3 linked regions of the Homo sapiens genome follow. The protein of the gene in region 3 interacts with the protein of the main gene of each other region in a biochemical or structural test. Each region holds a gene or a part of one and is shown on either strand. Other genes may lie near its edges. The genes, in order: PAX3, NOSIP and IPO13.

What was found.
Region 1: the proteins of IPO13 (region 3) and PAX3 form a complex in vitro, tested with the Homo sapiens proteins (one study listed by BioGRID).
Region 2: the proteins of IPO13 (region 3) and NOSIP form a complex in vitro, tested with the Homo sapiens proteins (one study listed by BioGRID).

Annotation. Positions count from the first base shown.
Region 1 is NC_000002.12:222,288,939-222,296,043, forward strand, and holds part of PAX3 (paired box protein Pax-3), read right to left. Parts: intron 6,720-7,105; coding exon 6,590-6,719; intron 5,364-6,589; coding exon 5,229-5,363; coding exon of another isoform or gene 5,167-5,228; exon of another isoform or gene 4,820-5,166; coding exon of another isoform or gene 4,785-4,819; exon of another isoform or gene 4,697-4,784; intron 1-4,696. UniProt on the Homo sapiens protein: Transcription factor that may regulate cell proliferation, migration and apoptosis. Involved in neural development and myogenesis. Transcriptional activator of MITF, acting synergistically with SOX10.
Region 2 is NC_000019.10:49,570,507-49,577,611, forward strand, and holds part of NOSIP (nitric oxide synthase-interacting protein), read right to left. Parts: intron 6,372-7,105; exon of another isoform or gene 6,253-6,371; intron 4,479-6,252; exon of another isoform or gene 4,085-4,478; intron 1-4,084. UniProt on the Homo sapiens protein: E3 ubiquitin-protein ligase that is essential for proper development of the forebrain, the eye, and the face. Catalyzes monoubiquitination of serine/threonine-protein phosphatase 2A (PP2A) catalytic subunit PPP2CA/PPP2CB.
Region 3 is NC_000001.11:43,956,879-43,963,983, reverse strand, and holds part of IPO13 (importin-13), read right to left. Parts: coding exon 7,008-7,105; intron 6,790-7,007; coding exon 6,669-6,789; intron 6,583-6,668; coding exon 6,435-6,582; intron 6,008-6,434; coding exon 5,826-6,007; intron 5,743-5,825; coding exon 5,716-5,742; intron 5,524-5,715; coding exon 5,389-5,523; intron 5,239-5,388; coding exon 5,095-5,238; intron 3,736-5,094; coding exon 3,655-3,735; intron 3,109-3,654; coding exon 2,971-3,108; intron 2,819-2,970; coding exon 2,722-2,818; intron 1-2,721. UniProt on the Homo sapiens protein: Functions in nuclear protein import as nuclear transport receptor. Serves as receptor for nuclear localization signals (NLS) in cargo substrates.

The sequences.
Region 1 (7,105 bases), on a different chromosome or scaffold from region 3:
GCGCTCCCGGCCTTTTAATGTGTAACAATGGTATCAACAAACAGCTACTTAATCAATATTTGGCCAGAGCTGCTGAAAACTTCCTTTTCAGATTTTAATTCCTACTTGTAAAACAACCCCAGAGCAGCCAGTGAGATAAGACATTAAACTGACTGCTTAATTGCCTTTTAGTGTCTTGTTAGTTATATATGTACATTCTAAATGGTTCTTTAATCTTTATTTACCCTCATAGATAAGTTACCTGTCATACAGAATCCAATCGAACGTAAAACATTTTCTGTTCCAGCCCAAGCCAAACTCTCATTTCTCACCGTTTGTTTGTTGTTACTGTTGCAGCTTTTCATTTTCATTGGCCATCTACTTATGTACAACTTAAACATTTAGTCTCATAGGAAGAATTTTTTGTTGTTGTTCTCAAAATATATGCATTCATGGATGCTGAAGCCATTCGGATTTAGCGGCCACACTCCTATTCACGTGATCGATTTCTGCATATTCCACTCGCCTGAACCGCCGCGCGCTGACTGGTTCCGCCTCACCGCCCGGGTGGGTTTTATTGCTCAGCCCTGGGGACTTTTAAATGACCCTTCAGTAATTATTACTCAGTAGAAGCCCCTACGTCCTGGTTCCGGTGCTATCAACAATCAAATCAAACCCCAAAATAAACATACGATTTCAAGCATTAATTAGAAAATCTGCATGTTTTCAATAAAGCTCTAGAAGGTAAGCACACAGCAGTCAACCAAACCAAACAAGCGAAAAAGAAAAAGCTAGGAGCTGAACTCTGGTGTTTCCTTTCAAATCGTTCCAGCAGGAAAATTGTTACCGCGACATTAATAAATAGAACACGGCGTGGTGTTCTAATAGAATTCAAGTTCTGATACTTCCAATATTTTTTAAATGGATGATATTTCTTTGCTGAGTTTTGCAAGGACTTCAGAAAATATGAAGTTTTCTCTATAGAATCGAAACGACATTGAAGTCAAATTCGTGATCCTAACAAATGGACTTGGAAAGTGGGCTGGTCTGTCCACTTGAATAAAGGATCCGATGCCATAAACCTATGATCTTATACCCAATGATTTTAATCTATGGGAAAGTTCGTCCCCCGCCTTCCCCTCCTCCCAACCTTGGACCAAAATGGCCCTTCCTGCTCACTAACCGGGAAAGAAACGGCCCTTCGTTTTCCTTGATTTCAGCAGTCCCTTAATGATAAGAGTGCTCTTTTCATGATTTCACTGGAAATAAAATACTCCAAATACCTTTAATGCTTTTCTGCGTTTTAAACTGATTAATCTTCTCCTACCTCCCCCCCAAAAAGCTGAAGTCGTCCTCGTTAACTTTACAAAAGCTGACAAGCTTACAAATAAAATGGAAACTTGAGCAAAGCTTTCGTCACTTTTACTTTCTCCAATTTTTTAAGAAAGCACTCTTTTTTGTAAACGTCAAATAAGAGGGAACAGATAGGAAAGGAATATAAGCCCCCAACAGACCTATGCTTGAGATCTCTTAGTGGGATCTTTTAAATTGTTGCAAACCTCCCACGCTCACTTGTGATTTTAAAAGGGAGGAAAGTCTTATGAGAGTGTATCGCCAGTCCCCAATCAAAACATCAATTTGGCAATCTGGCCTCTCTCCCCCTGCGCTCCGGAGCTGCCACTTCAAAGCTGCTACAACAAGTCAGTAATTGTAACTTTGCATCTAAATATTTAAGCGAGAGTCTTGCAGTCGCGTGTCCATTTACAGTCCTCAACTGTCCTCTAATTCCATTACTGCACAAAGCAAAAATGTTTCCCAAAACTCACAAACAGGAAAAGCGTCACCCTGCTGGAGGGGGAGAAGGAGGGGTGGAGGAGGAGGAGGAGATGATGAAGGGGCAGTTTCTATTGATTAGTCACCGCTTTTGTGTTAAGGGCTTTCTTTAAAATAAGAAAAAAATGGGGGGAGGTTGCAGAAATTTCACTAATGTGAGCCTCAGGCAAGGGAGGAAAAAAAAAAAGAGGAGAAGAAGGGGGGAGGCGGGCTGTGTCTAGATGAAAGTGAGAAGGACATAAAGGAGGCAATTGAGTCGGCTGCAGCCCGGCGAGCTAAGCTTCGAGCCGGCCAGAGAGTAGGGGAGGGGGCGGAGCGGCGCGGCGCTTTGGCGCAGAGCACAGGAGTGGGGGCCCAGCCCATTGTGGCGGCGCCCGCGGGCCCGCTAGGCCGAGCCGGGGGAGGAACAGAGGCGCCCATTGAGCGGCCGCTGCGCAGGGCGGTGCCCACAGCCCCGGATGCCTCGGCCAGGACTTGGCTCCCCCGGCTGCCTCTGCTCCAGTCTCAGCGCGGGCCAGGGGCTAGGGGGATTGGGGATAGCGGGCGGGGTTCGTGTTAGTGAACCGCCCAGCCCTCTCCTTTCTCCTGGGCTATGGAGCTGGAGGGATGTATCCAGCAAGGGTGCATCATGCTTAGCGCGCGCCCGTTAGGGAGCGCGGGCCTGAGCGCACCAGCACCGCTAGCGGCTCAGCTCTTGAATTGAGCGAGGGAAAAGGGAAAGTTGGGAAAGTTAAGAGGACCATCTGGGAGAAAGCCACTGGAGAGAAGAATGAGGTGATTCTGACCTCATTCAAAGTGGCTCAACCCTTTTGTCCTAGTGTCTGCCAAGCAGACCTCAGGCCAAAGATTCCCCTGAAAAGCCAGGCTCAGCAGCACCCACCAGACCCACTAACTGGAAAAGGGCAAGAATACACCACACTGGTCAGGGGACCCCAAAGTTCCTCCTCCCTCAGCTTTCTTCTCCCCCTCTGCCAGGGCGCTAAGAACGCTTTATCAACATTCATTCTATTTTACAAGCGGGCAGCCTGGGATTTTTGATGCCCGAACAACAGAAAGGAGTTTTTGAAGTTTCTAGACTTCAAACTGCACCTCACTCTGTCCTTTCTCTGGGCCCCTCTTGTCCTCCGAGGCTCATCTAAAAAGGAGCTAGAGATGCTGAAGAGACAGACACTGCATCTTCCTTGACAACCCCAAATTAAATCAGGCTTCAGCCTCCAAGGTGTGTGTGTGTGTGTGTGTGTGTGTGTGTGTGTGTGTGTGTGTGTGTGTGTTTCCAACAGCACAGCCCCCACTGGGGAGAATACTCTGATTTTAAAAATGTAGCAATTGCCCTTGAATAGCAGCCGGCCCAGCTAGACAGCCCAAAAGACTAGAAACATTTTGTAGGTGAAATGGCCACTTTTTCCACGCTGAAGAGTCCATAAAACTTCCCGGCGCAGCAGCTATTGGGGCTCATTGAATAATTCATCCCTCATTGCAAGCCCATAATGTCTATTCTCAGCCTTTTGTGGTGCTGTTTTCTCTTCTTTTCTCCTTGAATTATAAAAAGGTTGCCTTCCTTTGTTCACATCAAGCTGCTCCGAGCTGGAGCTTTGTCTGGGCTGAGCTAAAGTGTGAGTTTCAATGGACTCTCCAGGCTTTGTCTCCCAAGTTCATCTCCAAGTGTAGATTGTGTAGAGAAGGACTTCTTTGTAAAAGCTGGAAAAGTTGTACAAATGTTTGACCAGCTCATTTGGGACGTTTTGTCTCCTGGGCCTCAGTCGCCTGTACTGCGAGAGAGCAGCCAGTCTGCCAGCGCCGGAGCCTCCAGCAACAAGTAGCAAAGCCGTGAGTCCCCAGCCTCTGTGACTGCTCTGGGCTCTTCTCCCCACTGCCCACAGGAGCACATTTGGTTTGGGGTTGTCTGACTCCCTGCCTTCCTCCCTTCTCAGCACCTCTATTCTGCAGCTAGGCCTGGGATAAAAGCCAAGGTGTCTTCTCAGAGACCAAGGCAGAAAAATGCACCTCTCCAAAAAGAGGATTTAGGCTGAGTCCATAGGAGGCCTCTGTCATAAAGCAAAGGAAGCATCTCCCTGCCCAACCTGCTGTGGTTTGACATGTCTTTGATTTCTTGTGTGCATCAGAGTATCTACACTTGTTTTTCCCTCAAATCAGCCATTTGGATCTGTAACTTCCAAATCTAAATGTTCCTTCCAGGTTGTGTGCAGATTTTGCATTGCTTTGTAAAGCAGCTGCTCAGGAGAGCCACTGGCTGCCACAGAGTTGGGCAATGAAGATAAAAGAAGTCCCACTTGGATGCCACTCTGGTAAGGGCTCGGACCCAGCTAGTCACAGTCGGCAACGGCTGTGAGCCCACCTGGAAAGCCGCCTGTCCCTCTGGCAACTCCAAAACTAACTTTGCCCAATGAACTCCAAGTCCCAGGTGAGGAAACTTCAGGCATGAGTGGGACCCCTGGCCACTCTTGACCATTTGTGCATTTGAAGAGGGGCAACCACCCCCAAGGCCAAAGCCACTGAGACACAATCCTCCCCTCCCCCCTGCCGTCTCCTGCTGCAATGATCCTTTCCTGGTTCAGCATTTCTTTTCCTTTCTTTCTTTCTTTTTGCGTTTGTACCCTTAAAGTTTGAGGATGGCTTGCGGCAGGTGAAGGGGAAGCAAGCTGCACTTCTGTCTCCCATGGGGGAGATTTTTTTTCTTAGTGCCGACAGTGCACAGCCGAAAAGGAATGGGGATCTGTACCCCTAGAAGACAGAGGGTGCCAGCACTCTAAGAACCCAGATCCCTTCAATTTGTAACCCAGAGCTTGGGTTCCTTTCAATTCCCAGGCACACACAGGTTAAACCCCCTCACATTTGAAAATCAACTTCAAACAAATCAAACCAGTCAACACACAGACATATTTATAAGGCAGCCAATGTGGGGGCAATTTTGGAGGGCCGTTGCCCAAAAGAGTACTCTCTCTCTCTCTCCTTTAATGCGAGGAAACTCCGGAGACCAGGGCCTTTCCTGAGGGCATAAAAGCTACTTCAACTTCTGAAGATTCAAGTACCCTCTATCCCCGGCCCTACAATTGCTCAGAGATGCCCAGTCTCATACATTTAATGGCAACAGAGTGAGAGCTTCCCCTGCCCCCTACAACAGAGCACAATTCACAGTTCTAGAATCCCAGGGGCTGAAAGTGGTTAAGAAAGAAAGATTTACAAAACAGAAAAACTAAGCAGAATAGAAATGTTTGTTTTGATTCCTAGTGTCCCTCTGGTCTTTCAGTTCCATGTCGTTACTCAGGCGCAGAGACACCGCGCATGAAGGGACCTTGATCCGAGCTGGGCTTGGCTGCCGTCAGATCACCAATGTCAGCTAGCCGATGCCCTCCAAGTCACCCAGCAAGTGCGCCGCCCAAGGCGCCACCGCTTACCTCGCTCGCTCAGGATGCCGTCGATGCTGTGTTTGGCCTTCTTCTCGCTTTCCTCTGCCTCCTTCCTCTCCAAGTCGGCCTCCTCCTCTTCACCTTTCCCGAATTTACTTCTCAGGATGCGGCTGATGGAACTCACTGGGGGCGGGAGGAGGAAGGAAGCAAGGGAGCGCACATGGTTGAGACAAGCAGGGCTGTGCGGGAAGGACCCCCCACCCCCAAACACCAGCCAGGGCCCTAGAGCCGCTGCCCTGCACTGCTCGCGGGTGTCTCCTCCTGCATCTCTGGACATCCTCATCCTTCTCCAGCCCTCTCATCCTGCCACTCAAACCCCCCTCCCTATTATCTGTATCTCGGTACTGAAAGACGGAGGCTGGGAAAACCGTGCCTCCAAGTTAGGGCCGGATGCCATCTTTGTCCCTCGATTCTGGGCAGGAAGCATTTCCCTTCCTGGACTCCGAAGACCGGGCTCTAGGTCTGCAATCTAAGAGAATTCTCCCACCAGCCCACCGGGTACCCTCCTTCCTCCCCACCTGAATGCATGGATCCTGCGGTTCGCCTTAAGGGAGGAAGAACCAAAGCCGACTTGTCCGCGCCCCCCCCCACCCCCCCGTAAATCAAGTTTCTTTTTTTTCCTTTCTTCCCTTTTTTTTTTTTTTTTAAGGCTATAAAGGGTTTAAATTTCAACTGCAGAATCGTTTCCTATTGTAAAAATCAAAAGAAAATGCACTCTCTCCCACTTATTTTTTCCAGATTCCAGTCTGGTAAACAAATCCATGCTCTGAAATATGTTTCTCACAGAGGGAAAAAGGGAGTTTCCTTTTAATTAAAAACAAACCCTCCCGTGCGCCCTCTCGCTGGCCCCGTGCTTGCCCCTCTTCTCCCTCCGCCTCCCCCAGGCTGCCGTGGCGGGGGGCTCCGGACCGTCCCTGAGACTCTCGGAGGAAATCGGGGCCGTTGTGGAAGCCTCCACGGCTTTGCGCACACGGCAAAGTCCCTCCCGGCGCGGGCCCCATCTCCCTTCGGTTGGGGTTACCAAAACATTTGTTTCTCTTTAAAAGGGAACATCAATATTAATAAACGCTCTGCCTCCGCCTCACGTTTCCTGCCCTGCCTCCTCGACAGAAATCTTCTTTGGGGCGTCCTCAGCGGTGGTCTCGCCACCCTCCGTCCCCAGGACAAGCAGCTCACCCCTCCCTCCATAAAGTGCCAAGAACACCGGGTTGGCAAATATTGCAGGGCCTCGGGAGAGGCCACCTCCCAATAGCTGAGATCGATAATTGGGGTGATTACGTCTGGGTCGACGTGCCGGGGTAATAGCGACTGACTGTCGCGCCTCGGGGAGAGGTTAATGGGCCTAGTACCTGACGGCACGGTGTTTCGATCACAGACCGCGTCCTTGAGTAATTTGTCTCGGATTTCCCAGCTGAACATGCCCGGGTTCTCTCTTTTGTATTCCTCAATTTTCTTCTCCACGTCAGGCGTTGTCACCTGCTTTAAGAGAACAGGCGGGCAGGCGTTGGTACCCGGTACCCTGGGCCAGGTGGCGGCGGCCCCACCGCCTCTGGGCCTGTCGGGATGCTCCTCGCTGAATCCTCTGGGACGGTCCCCCTTTGTGAGCAAAAAGACCTGAACTCTCTGAGGCACTTTAGAAAGGGGCAGACCAGAACACATCCCATCCCATCCCGGAGCAGCCTGGGAAGCCTCTAACTTCCCCAGACAAGCCCCAGACAACCGGGATAAATTCAGAAGAATTATAACATCTTGATGGGGGTAGGGTGGGGTTATACTTTCTCATCCCTGGAAATAAGGCAACTGCTTACACAGAACCAACATGAAAACGAAACTAAAAAAGCGATGTTTGAAAAAGGAGCTGAAAA
Region 2 (7,105 bases), on a different chromosome or scaffold from region 3:
ACAGAACCTTCCTATCACGCTAAATACCCCCTCACGCCCCTTCCCGATCAATGTGCCCCCTGAGGCAGCCAGGGCTGCTTGCAGAAGGGCGACCTTGATCAAACACCCCAACTTGACCCAGGGTCCCCTCCACATGCCAGGCTCCTCCTCCGACTTCCCCCTGACCCCCAAGCTTCTCAGTGAACGTCCAACACCTGTTGCCTCCCCTCACCTGCCATCCGCTCCCCAGCCCCCACAACTGCCACTCATGAAGGTCACGGTGACCTTTTCATGGACACATTCCCCACTCTATTCTTAGTTGTCAACTCCCTTGACCCTCTGCAGTATTTGGCTCTGGGCACCTCGGCTTTCCCAGAGATGAGCTTGCTTGCTGTTTTGTGGCCAAGAACTGAGGTTTCTACATAGATGGGGACATTTTCCCTCCAAAAATAGGAGGAACACCTATAGAGGGAGCATTTAAACTTTTTTTAATTTAATTTGTTTTTTTTGAGATGGAGTCTTGCTCTGTTGCCGAAGCTGGAGTGCAGTGGTGTGATCTCGGCTCACTGCAACCTCCACCTCCTGGGTTCAAGCAATTCTCCTGCCTCAGACTCCCAAGTAGCTGAGATAACAGGCGCCCACGCCCAGCTAATTTTTTTTTTTTTTTTTTTGTATTTTTTAGTAGAGACAGGGTTTCACCATGTTGGCCAGGCTAGTTCTGAACTCCTGATCTCAAGTGATCCGCCCACCTCAGCCTCCCAAAGTGCAAGGATTACGGGCATGAACCACTGCACCCGGCAAACTCTTTGATTTTTAAAACTCAGTGATTTTTAAGATCCTGAGACCAGAAAGCGTGAGCGCCTCCAACCAAGGGTGGAAGAATAGCCAGTTTCAGGATTTACAAACTCTGAAAGCTGAGCTCTCCTGCCCCACACTATATTGTCTCTTTGGTAGGTCCAATTTCAAACTACAAAGCAGACTGCTGCCATCTGCTGTCACCAGCATTTCAGAGAGGAAACAGGCAAAGAGCAGGAGCGACCGATGTCAGCATAATCCCTACCTCACAGCACAGGAAACAGGCTCACAGCATGTCCCAGCTGGGAAATGGCAGAGCTGGGACTCAGACCCAGGCAGCCAGGCTCTGGAGCCATTCCTTTTAACTAGGTGACAACTGTCAGTTTTCCTAGGAAAGTCACAATCTCAGAAAAAAGGCCAATCAGGCTGGCCACGGTGGCTTAAACCTGTAATGCCAGCACTCTGGGAGGCTGAGACGGGTGGATCACAAGGTCAAGATGTTGAGACCATCCAGGCCAACATGGTGAAACCCCATCTCTACTAAAAATACAAAAATTAGCTGGGTGTGTTGGTGCGCGCCTGTGGTCCCAGCTGCTCGGGAGGCTGAGGCAGAAGAATCGCTTGAACCCAGGAGGTGGAGGTTGCAGTGAGCCCAGATCGCACCACTGCACTTCAGCCTGGCGACAGAGTGAGACTCTGTCTCAAAAAAAAAAAAAAAAAAAAGCCAATCCATTCCTTTATTTGTAGCCTTTGAAATCCAGAATGTATTTTACTCTTTCAGCACATCTCAGTAATTTCAGTAATTCAGATGCTAAATTTTCTTTTTTTTTTCTTTTTTTTTTGAGATGGAGTTTCGCTTTTATCACCTAGGGTGGAGTGCAGTGGTGTGATCTCGGCTCACTGCAACCTTCACCTCCCCGATTCAAGTGATTCTCCTGCCTCAGCCTTCCAGGTAGCTGGGATTACAGGCACCCGCCACCATGCCTGGCTAATTTTTTGTATTTTTAGTAGAGATGGGGTTTCGCCATGTTGGGCAGGCTGGTCTCGAACTCCTGACCTCAGGTGATCCACCCGCCTCAGCCTCCCAAAGTGCTAGGATTACAAGCATGAGTCACTGCACCCAGCCTTTTTTTTTTTTTTTTTTTTTTGAGACAGAGTCTCGCTCTGTTGCCCAGTCTGGAGTGCAAAATAGTGCAATCTTGGCTCACTGCAACCTCCACCTCCAGGGCTCAAGCCATTCTCCTGCCTCAGCCTCCCAAGTAACTGGAATTCCAGGCGTGTGCCACCATGCCCAGCTCATTTTTGTATTTTTATATTTGTATTTTTAGCACAGATGGGGTTTCACCACATTGGCCTGGCCATCAGATGCTAAATTTTCATTGGAGATACTTTAAAATATATATATATATATGGCTGGGAGCAGTGGCTCACGCCTGTAATCCCAGCACTTTGGGAGCCCAAGGCGGGCAGATCACCTGAGGTCAGGAGTTCAAGACCAGCCTGGCCAATGTGGCGAAACCCTGTCTCTACTAAAAATGCAAAAATTGGCTGGGTGTGGTGGCAGGTGCCTGTAGTCCCAGCTACTCGGGAGGCTGAGGCAGGAGAATCGCTTGAACCTGGGGGCAGAGGTTGCAGTGAGCCAAGATCGGGCCACTGCACTCCAGCCTGGCCAACAGATCAAGACTGTGTCTCAAAAAAAAAAAAAAAAAAAAAGCCCGGCTCTGAAGCAGACCCTGGCTCTAAGCATTTTACTGAATATCATAACACCTCAAACGGTCGAATATCACAACACTCCACTGAATATCACAGCACCTCAAATAGTTGCTATAAATGAAGAGAGGCACAGAGGCGGTGCCCTAGGTTATGCAGCTAGTGAGTCCTACAGCTGTGTTTGATCCAAGCACCTGTGGCTTTGACCATCCACTGTGCCAGCTGGCTGCAGGCGGCCTCAGGCACTGTGCTGAACTCTGGGAGTGGATCAGACAGCTAGTGTGTGTCTTGTCCTCCCCTGAAATCCTGTCTCCTTTCTCCTCCAGAGCACTGCCAAGGTTTGCCTCCTCCAAGAAGCCTGCCTCTCCGGGATCAGTTAGGTTCTCCTTGCACTTGACCGTGCCCTGAGCTACCTCCGTTACAGCCCGTCCCTCGGTATTTCGGCTCCAGAGTAGGGGCCCTGGTTGGTGGGGCCTGGGTTGAACTTCAGCCTGGGTCCCAGCATTGCCTGGCACCTGGGAGGTCTCAGAGATGTCATGATAGAATCAATGAACCACCTCCAATCCTAGGGCCAGGGGAGGTGGGTTAGCAATGAACTAACCATGCAGCCATGACATCATGCCATTAATACACTAATAATTCATTAGTAACATGTGAATCACAGAAGCACTGGAAGAACAGAAGTAATCATCACATCCTTCAACCCCTTAAGAATCAGACCTTGTGGGAAGCACTTTCCACATGTGAACACATTCGGTCCTCATGACAACCTCCCCACGTTCTGCCCATTTATTTTATTTTATGTATGTATGTATGTATGTATGTATTTATTTTGGAGACAGTCTCACTGTCACCAGGACTGAAGTATTTTTTTTTTTTTTTTTTTGGAGACGGAGTCTCACTCTGTCACCCGGACTGGAGTGCAGTGGCACGATCTTGACTCACTGCAACCTCCACCTCCCAGGTTCAAGTGATTCTCCTGCCTCAGCCTCCCAAGTAGCTGGGATTACAAGCACACACCACCATGCCTAGATACTTTTTTTGTATTTTTAGTAGAGACGGGGTTTCACCATGTTGGCCAGGCTGGGTCTTGAACTCCTGACCTCAGGTGATCTACTACCTCGGCCTCCCAAAGTGCTGGGATTACAGGCATGAGCTACCGCGCCCAGTCTTGCTCATTTAATAGGTAGGAAAATTGAAGCTTGGAGAAATTGGCCTCTTCCTCAGTCTATTCCTTGACAAACCAGCCTCAGGGGGGCTTTTCAGAATGGAAGTTTGATTAAGTCACTCTCTTCAACTGCTTCTTGGACATGACTCAAGACAAAAACCAAATTATTCAGACTAAGTGTAAGAGAAATGGGAGAATAGGAAAACTGCCATTTTGCAACCTCTGGTGAAATAGCTGACTCAGGCAATGATTGTTGATGGATGGCATTAAAGGAGAGGCTGATGGGGCCTGGATAGTCACAGGATGCTAATTCTTGCTACTGGAAAATACACAGTTGTAGCTTTACAATGCGGTTTTCGATGGCTGCCACCTGTCTCAGTCTGCTCCAGCTGCCATAACAAAACACCACTCTGGGTGGCTTAAACAACAGACCTATTTTCTCCAGTTCCTGAGGCTGGAAGTCTAAGTTCAGGCTACCAGCATTGTGGGGTTCTGGTGACACCCTCTTCCTGGTTTGCAGATGGCTATCTTCAGTGGCAGAGAGAAAGCTCTCTGGTGTCTCCTTCTGTTTTTTGGGAGGAGTCTCACTTTGTCACCTAGGTTGGAGTGCAGCGGCGGATCTCGCCTCCCAGGCCCAAGTGAATCTCCTGCTTCAGCCTCCTAAGTAGCTGGGATTACAGGCGTCCACCACCATGCCTGGCTAATTTTTTTTTTTTTTTTTTGAGACGGAGTTTCGCTCTGTCACCCAGGCTGGAGTGCAGTGGCGTGATCTCGGCTCACTGCAAGCTCTGCCTCCAGGGTTCATGCCATTCTCCTGCCTCAGCCTCCCGAGTAGCTGGGACTACAGGCGCCCGCCACCATGCCCGGCTAATTTTTTTGTATTTTTAGTAGAGAGGGGGTTTCACCACGTTAGCCAGGATGGTCTCTATCTCCTGACTTCGTGATCTGCCCACCTCGGCCTCCCAAAGTGCTGGGATTACAGGCGTGAGCCACTGCGCCCGGCCTCATTTTTGTATTTTTAGTAGAGACAGAGTTTCACCATGTTGGCCAGGCTGGTCTTGAACTCCTGATCTCATGTGATCCACCTGCCTTGGCCTCCCACAGTGCTGGGATTATAGGCATGAGCCACCATGCGCAGCCTCCTCCTATTATAAGGACACCAATCCATCAGATTAGGGCCCCACTCTTTCACCTTAATTATCTCCACAAAGGCCCTACCTCCAAATATAATCACCTTGGGGAATTAGGGCTTCAATATACGAATCTGGGGGGGACATTCAGTCTATAATGCTGCCTGAGCCTGAATGAATTTCACTACCCCTGAAAATGGGGCACCCAGGCAGTATGCAACATGAAGCGACCAGCTCTGAAGTAATCACCTGACAGCTGAATGGAAATTTAATCAAGTCTTTACATTCAATTTCCTGATTCTAGGAAGTCAGAGGATATAGCAGGGAATAACAAAAAAGGGCCAGAGAGTAAATGTTTTGAACTTTGCAGGCCAAACAGCCCCTGTAAGTACTCCACTCAGCCCCTGTAGCATAAAAGCAGCCACAGACACACAAACGGGCATGGCTGTGTTCCAATAAAACTTTACTTTTAGACTCTGACACGGAATCACATATAATTGTCATAGGTCACCAAATTCATTCTTTTGGTTTTTTCCAGTTATGTAAAAACGTTAAAAACCAGGCCAGGCGCAGTGGCTCACGCCTGTAATCCCAGCACTTTGGGAGGCCAAGGCGGGCAGATCGTGAGGTCAGGAGATTGAGACCATCCTGACTAACACGGTGAAACCCCGTCTCTACTAATAATACAAAAACAAAATTAGCCGGGCGTGGTGGCGGGCGCCTGTAGTCCCAGCTACTCCGGAAGCTGAGGCAGGAGAATGGCATGAACCCGGGAGGTGGAGCTTGCAGTGAGCGGAGATCACGCCACTGCACTCCAGCCTGAGCGACAGAGCGAGACTCCATCTTATAAAAAAAAAATGTTAAAAACCATTTTTAGTTTGCAGGCTGAACAAAAACAGGTAGCAGTTACAAAAGTCAGATATCTCCTGGCTGTTGTGGCTCATACCTGGATAGGGTGCTTTGGGAGGCAAAGGCAGGAGGATCACTTGAACTCACGAGTTCAAGACCAGCCTGAGCAACATGCCAAAACCCTGTCTCTACCAAAAAAAAGCAGCAGCAGCATGGTTTTTGAGACCAGACTTGAACTTGCTATGGGCAACATAGCAAGACTCCATCTCCACAAAACAAAATTTAAAAAATTAGCCGGGCATAGTGGCATGCGCCTGTGGTCCCAGCTACTTGGGAGGCTGAGGCAGGAGGATCACTTGATCCCAGGAGGTTGAGGCTGCAGTGAGTTATGATCGTGCCACTGCACCACTGCACTCCAGACTGAGTGACAGAGTGAGACCTTGTCTCTGGGGAAAAAAAAAAAAATGCCAGGTGAGGTGGCTCACACCTGTAATCCCAGCACTTTGGGAGGCCGAGGTGGGCGGATCACCTGAGGTTGGGAATTCGAGACCAGCCTGACCAACATGGAGAAACCCCATCTCTACTAAAAATACAAAATTAGCTGGGCGTGGTGGTGCATACCTGTAATCCCAGCTACTCGGGAGGCTGAAATGGGACAATCACTTGAACCTGGGAGGCGAAGGTCGTGATGAGCCAAGATCGCACCATTGCACTCCAGCCTAGGCAACAAGAGTGAAACTCTGTCTCAAAAAAAAAAAAAAAAAAAAAAAAATCAGGATATCTGATAAGGGAATTGCAGTGAGAATATATTAAAAACTTACAACTCAATAATGAAAGGACACCTAACACAATTTGAAAATGGGTAAAGGATTGGAATAGACAGTTCTTCAAAGATCTACAAATGGCCAATAAGCATGTTAAAAGACACCAGTTCACACCCCCTAGAATGACTATAATCAAAAAGATAAATAATAAGTGCTGGTGTGGATATGGAGAAACTGGAACCCTTATACATTGGTGGTAGAAATGTAAAATGGTACAGCCATTCTGGAAAAGTCACAGTTTCTCAAAAGGTTAAATAGTCACCTTTTGACCCAGCAATTCCACTGCCAATAGAAATAAAAACATACATCCATGCAGGCGGGGCGCGGTGGCTCATGCCTGTAATCCCAGCACTTTGGGAGGCCAAAGCGGGCGGATCATGAGGTCAAGAAATCGAGACCATCCTGGCCAACATGGCGAAACCCCATCTCTACTAAAAATACAAAAATTAGCTAGGCGTGGTAGCGCATGCCTGTAGCCCCAGCTAGTCGGGAGGCTGAGGCAGGAGAGTCGCTCAAACCTGGGAGCCGAGATCACGCCACTGCACTCCAGCCTGGGTGACAGAGCAAGACTCTGTCTCAAAAAAAGAAAAAAAAAGAAAAGAAGTATATCTTGGGTAAAGGAATATTATCCAGCCATAAAAAGAATAAAG
Region 3 (7,105 bases):
CAATTCTGGACTCCATATAGCTGAAGAAACGGCCACCACACTTACTGTGGCCTCTGGCAGGTTGGGGTAGCCCTACACTGCTCCTAGCACATACCTCCCATCAGCCAGTCATTGAAGAGGAAAGCTGGGATGGCGGTGGGGGGGTGGGGGAGTCAGTCCTTGGTATCTCCTTTTGAGGTTTATCTGAGGGCCCTAGAAAGGCCAGGGCATCAGAGCCTGAGTAAGTGCCACCTCACTTCAATGGCCTTAGGGCTCTTGGTCTGGCAAAGGAAAATAATCTATTCAGTCCACTTAAACCACAGGACTCTTGCTTAGGTAGGGCAGTGCCCAGCATGCTCTGGAGATGGCCTGGCAAGTCACTGGCAGGGCCCAGAGGAGGAAACAGTATCATAAGGCCAAAAACAAGAGCCCCACCCCAGCAAACCTCCTCCACATGGACATGGACTCTGCAGAGAGCCAAGCTCAGGGCTGAGGACTAGTTCCCATCATCTGGACATGCCAAGAAACAGGGAAACAAGAAACATGTCATCCTATGGTCCAGTGGGAAGGCAGAGCCCGAGGAAGGAATGGCTAAGATTGGGATGGCATAACAGGTATGGGAGCCATCCTGTCCAGCGAGACAACCAACAAGCCCAACGTATATGATGTTGGACACTGCTGCCTCCAGTTCTGATCATTCCTGAGGCAAGAATATGGCATGCACCTGGAGCTCCTACCCAGGCTTCTCCACTCTCAGGAGGATGTGGTACAAAACCATCTGCCTAAGACACCACTAAGTAGCTGTGTGATCTTGCGCAAGCCACAAATGCTCAGTTTCCCCATCTGTAAAGCAGATAATCTCTGCCCTGCTTCCTTCTCTAGGCTATGAAGAGTCACCAATAAAGTCTGTCCCTTTGGTATCTGAACCCTGAGTTATTTAAGTCCTAGAAAGTGAGGCCCAGTGTGCACCATGCAGGTTTGATATTCAGCAGCCACCCTGCTAGAGGTGGGCCAGAAAATGAGAAGGAAAGGTTCCAAGGGCAGGGAGCCCTCCCCCTCCTTTATTTAACAGTGTCTGTGGCCTGCTGTATTCTGGCCTCATTCTGGGCACTGGGGATGCAGAGAGAAGAAACTCAACCCTACCCTTGAGGGGCTTAAGTCTAGTAAGAGAGACAGACATGAAAGCTGATTATTGTGTGTGATCAGTGCTGTGTCAGCAGTGTGTATGGGATGCAGTTTCAGTACAGTTAGAAGCACCCAATTCTGCCTCAGAGAGAAATTACTCTGAGAAGTGATGCAGTCTTCCTCCTTTCTAAGGCATGAAGGAGTGAGAGTTCACCCAGTAAAGGGCATAGGACATTCCAGTCAGAGGAGCAAGGCACAGGGATCAAATGGGACACGGTAAGGAAGAGGCAGTGTGGCTGAAATGTTGGAGTCATGAGGACATTGGCAGGAGAGGACATTAGAGGCATGCCAGAGCCTTGTCATGTGGGTGGGAATGGAACAATAAGCTGAGGGCAATGGGAACAATGAAAGGGTTTTAAGCCCGGGATGACAAATGCTCAGATTTGTGTTTTTATGAAGATTATAGCTGCAGTGTGCAGAACAGATTGGAGAGAAGGGGAGATGCCAAGAAAACCCACTAGAAGGTTGCTGATAATCCAGGTGAGACCCTAAACTGAGGCAGTGGCCACGGAGGTGGGTAGAAGTGGACCAACCGAGAGAGAATCAGGAGTCAGGATCAATGGGGCTTGTCCCAGATTGGGTACAGGGAGTTGGGAGAGGTGGAGTTGAGGATGACCACACCAGGTTTCTGGTTCAGTTTTCTCCCCAGTTTGGACCTACTCCATGGCCCACAGAAACAGAGGCCAGGATCATGAGACCAGGCACTGAGGATATGAGCTGCGAGTACTCTGGGCACCAACCGAGACCCCTGGTGAGCCTCAAACCTGTGACCATGAATCCAGGCAAGGCTCATGAGGCTAGCTGAGCAGTGCTGTTTTTTTGTTTTTGTTTCTCCAAACTGGAAGCCTGGATTAGACAACACGAGAAGCCTGAATGAAGCCCCTGCTGCCAACTCTCTCAGGCAAAGGGCCACAGTGAGTAGAGGGCTAGGACCACAGCCAAAGGTACTTGACTTCTGGCCTAGAAAGTACTAAGCCTTGATGCAGGGAAAGGAACCAACAGTCTCTGAGTACTTCACTGTGCAAAAGCCCCTGAGCCAAGGGCCCAGAAGATGTGACTTTAATACCTGTAAACAATCATTTCAAGTATATGTTATCTCCGTTTCACAGATATGGAAATGAAGGCCCAGCAAAGGTAAGTGACTTGCCCAAGGACACACAACTAGTTGGTGGTGATGAACTTAGAATCTAGGTCTAGCTGACTTCAAAAGCCCGTGCTCTTTCCACTTTTCATTATATCCCAAAGTAAAGGAGCCAGCCTAGTGCCCCAAGCCCCTCAGAGCCTCTGCCCACCTCCCACCCCCACTTCCTTCTTCCATATCCAGACTGGCCCTGAGCCCAGCAGGCCAGCAGAAGACATCATTCACCCTCTTATCCACTTCAACCTAAAGTTTCAACTATTTATAAGGTGTTGTGCTTGATCTCACAGGTTTCCCATCAAGTCCCACGTGTGACTCAGGGGACAGAGAAGAACAGAGTGGGCAGCTTTGGCTCCCCATTTGGGGAAGCAGAGGCAGTGGCAGTGGCAGCAGCAGCAGAGACCCCGGTCAGGACCTACCTTGCTGGAAGAGAGTGAGTGTGACGGAGGTGACGAGCAGGAAGAGGGCCTCAATTGGGGGAAAGTGGGCAGGCTCATGAGCAAAGATGTGGACCAGCTACGAGAAAGCAGGGAATGCTGGTCAGCTGAGACCCAGTCTCACCAGGACATGGCAATATCCCTGGAATGCAAGTGGGGACCCCAGCCACGGCAGCCATCTGACCCACCCCCACCCAGGGTCAGGATCTCTGCCCCAACCAGAAGGCCCACCTGTCGAGTGAGGTCAAGAGCAGAGGCCTGGGGGATGGTGCTGTACATCCGACCCAGCATCTCACACAGCTGTGGCACCATGGGGGCAAAGTCATCCAGCAGCGTCTTAACAGACTTCTCAAAGATAGCGCACACCGCCTTGGGAAGAAAGCAAAGGGGCCCTGGTCAGCAGGTCATGACTGGCTGGAACAGCGCTGAAGCCCTGCACAGAGGGGGCCTACGATTGGGCCCTTACCTATAAGCCTTGCCTGGCCCTGCAAACCAAGGAAGGTAAGCAAGTCTGACCCTCACCCTGAAAGGCAGGGGGCAAAGGCCCTTCACTGAGGGGCACAGGATGTAACTGTGGAACTTAACTCCTGCGACTTACATCTCTAACATTTCCTCTCAGGGAGCAGCAACAGCAACAAAAACCTGAATTGAAAAGGGACCAAAGGCAGGTCTTTGGTGCTAAAACAGATGCCTGACTGTCACTCGACCCTAATATTAGAGTCCTTACGTTAAGCACTTCTCATGATATTGGGGAGTTCTAAATGTCTTCCCAAAAGATTCCTTATCTCTATGGGGCAGGATTCACCTCCCTTGTTTTCTCCAAACCATTGTAAGCTGAAGTGTGGCAGTAACATCTTACCCTGCTACACCTCTGAGCAGTCACTATGGGAGCGGAGGGCAAGGGTCAGGGCTCACCTCCACAACCTGGGCATCATTCAACCATTTGCTCAGCACCTTCTGGATAAGCTGGAAGACCTGCTGCAGCACCACCACCACCTGAAGGCACAGGAAGAAGTGAGGCGCTTCTGCTATCCATCACTGTGACCCACTTGAGGAGGACTTGGTGGCAGGGAGGAGGGGAGCAGTTCAGACCTATTACCCCAGAACACACATTGAGGACCCAGGGCATGGGACCCCTGGGGGAAGAAGTGGTTTGCTGAACTCTCTCATGAATGAAAAAGGAGTATTTCCTGAATTCTAGGGATCATCTCAAAGGAAGCCTCAAACTGCAAAGCAGAGATATCACAAGTGCTTCATAAGGTTACAAAAACTTTGTAAACTTAAAAAAAAATCTCTCCCTATCTCTGCTCTGTAAAACCAAGGCTATGGGCTAGCCTCTGAAGAAGTGGAGATGCTATCTCCTCCAAATAGGCTTGAGGTAGGGAGCCCCAAGGAATGCACAGATGCAGGCTTAAGCTGCTCTCCCAGCTTATGGAGGAGCAGAGAGCAGACTGAGGTCCTGGGAGGTGAGGAAAGGCAGGATGATGACTACCATGTAAAGAAGCAGCTCTGTGGGATGACAGTGGCCCAGGGGTGGTCTAAAGCCAAGAGGCTAACTGAAACTGGGTTGGGGAGTTAAGCAGAGAGGCCAGGATGCCTATGGCTTCCTTTTCTCCTGGAGAAATCTGGGAGGGAGTTCTGGGAACAACGACTAAAGCAGTCCCTTATATTTGTAAAGAACTTTACAATATGCAAACTACCTTCACTTAAGACCACATCTACTATCCAGCACAGTTCTATGAATTGAGTAAGCCAGACATTTCAATGTTCATAGTTTTTAATGGGAAGCTGAGGCTTGCCCCAGATCAAGCAGCTTGTAAGTGGTCACCCCAAAACCTATGCCCAAGCTTACCACAGGACTTATCACACTGCTTTGTGACAATTTGAGCAACCTGAATTTCCTCTACACTGGGAGCAACTTGAAGGCCAGAACTATTACATGCGGAGGAGGTAATGAGCATCCTTAGTGCCCACAGGGGACAGTAAATGTTGAAGTAGAAGGCCCTACAGAGCTAGGGGTTGAACAGGGGCCCATAAAATCACTTAAGGGTTGAAGGATATAACGTCAATGTCCCTCATGGGGCTGAGGAATCTCAATGACATCACCCTAATTGGGCTGGGGACAAGGACAACATCACACACAGAGCTGAGTGAGATAATGACATTGCTGCCTACAGAGTGAGGCAATTATAGGTCATTCATGGAGTCAGAGGACCAAATATATCACGCCCACGGGGCAGGGAGAACAATGACAACATTACCCACAGAATTGAAGAGTGACAATGACATTCCCACAGGTGGGGGTTGGGGGGATGGCAAAGACAAATGTCTTTGCCGTGGGCAAATGTCACCCACGGGGTTGGGTCCCTGTGGCACTGGCAGCTTCCGAAGCTCAGGGCCTTCATGATCATCCTCATGATGACTGATGTCCAGTGTGGTGAAGAGGTTGGAGAGAAGCCCCAAGATGTGAACAATGGCCAGCTTGTTGGAGGGATTGGGCTGCAGGGAGAAGCAAACCAAGCTCCAGATCTCCCAGCCCCAGTTTGGTCCCCAGATCACTGAGCCTCAGCTCTGAGGGCCAGCTCCAACCTCACCCCTCATCAGCCACAGCATCTCAGTACCGCTCCCTGGCCCCCAGAGCTCACTCACTATCTCCTCTGCCAGCTTCTCCAGTTGCTGGATATAGGGTGAGATAAGCGAGTGCAGGTTCTTAAGGATCTCCTCCACTTGAAGAGCTGACAGCAGGAAGCCCAGCGCCTGCATCAGCCACATGCACTGGCTTGTCTGTGGGGCAGAACATGGATGGTCAGTCCTGGCCACATCTAGTTGTGGGGTAGGAAGGAAAATGAGCCTCTTGGGAGAAGAAAAACAGAGAATAAGGGATAAGAGGAAGGGGAAGGCCAAAAAACAGGATTTCAGGGATAAGTGATTCCCACAAGACCTCCAAGGAGACCCCTAGAAACTTTTGAGCCGCACCTTGTGGATCTGTTTCATCAGCACATCCTGAGGGGAGAAAGAAGGAATGTAGTATCAGCACAGTGCAGAGTGTGCTCTGAGGCCCAGCACCATCCAGGGCCCCTGCATACCTGGGACACAGCCACAATGTTGGCAGCATAGGGAGGCAGGTCATACTTGCACTCTCGGCAGATCTTCTTGAGGGTGGACACAGAAGAGACAGACAGCTCAGGATTGCCTAGGGCATGCAGTACCAAGGGCAGAACACTGTTGATCATGACGGGGTGGTCAGCCAGCCATTCAGACAGAGCTCCTGGAGGAAGGAGGGAGACAGGAGGATCTTTGAGGCAGGCCAGGCTGGCTTTGTACCATGTCTCTGAGGCAAGCAGAGTTCCTGGCAGGGTCAAGTTGCAGCCCCAGCACAGAGTACTGCCCCATTCAGAGGACATATGCATGTGCATGCTCAAACATGAGCCTTACAGCTGAGAAGCAGGAAGGGGTTACTCAACAGAGGCCCAGTACTGCTGTTTCACTGACGGTAAACTAGCCTCACTGAATTGCAGCTCAGTGTGCCATCAGATGGACCCCCTAGACCTGCCAGGACAGTCAGTTTGTTACAACACTGATTGTGTGTAGGCATGTGGCTCTCCCATTCTGGATAGGATCCAGCATGCTGGCTGTGGCCAGGGTTGGGTGCTGTGGCTCTGGGAATATGGTCATGGGTGTGTGCCAGGTCTCACCAATGGTGAACATGACAGTGTCTGCCAGCTGCACGTTGCTGATGCTGATCCGTGGGATGAGGCCAATGAGCCCAGGCACCACATCAGAATAGTTGACGTCAATGGTCTCTGCGATGGATTGGAAGCCGTAGAGGAGGGCCTCTGTGTGCTGGGGAAAGAGGGTGCCACTGGCTTGGATGAGGAGGAGGGTGTGACAGGTCTGGGAAGGCTGAGGGAATCAGGCTTGGGAGGTACCTGCCAGGAGTAGGGCTCCTCTGAGCTGGTGAGCAAACGACCCAGCTTGTCATAGAGGTTGCTGAGCAGCTCGGCCCCCAACATCTCATAGACATACATGAGCGTGTCTGAGATGTCCACCCTGAGAAGCAGATGAAGGCCTTTTATACTGCCTGGATCCTGACCCTGGATCCTGCCCCCAAGCCCAGGAGCCTACCCCAGTACCCCCACAACTCTGCAACAATACCTAGAAAACAGAAAGGAGCACCAAAATTCAGAAAGCCTGGACTTGGGCCCCTTCCCTCATTGCCTTCATTATTTCTGGACTCCATTTTAGAGGAGTTGGCCTGCTACCATCACCTGTAAATTCGGAACTGCTCCTTCTCGTCTGAGGACCAGAATCCATATTCCTCATCAGAAGGGAACTGGGCCTTGTGCAGAAGCACATCCACCAGCTG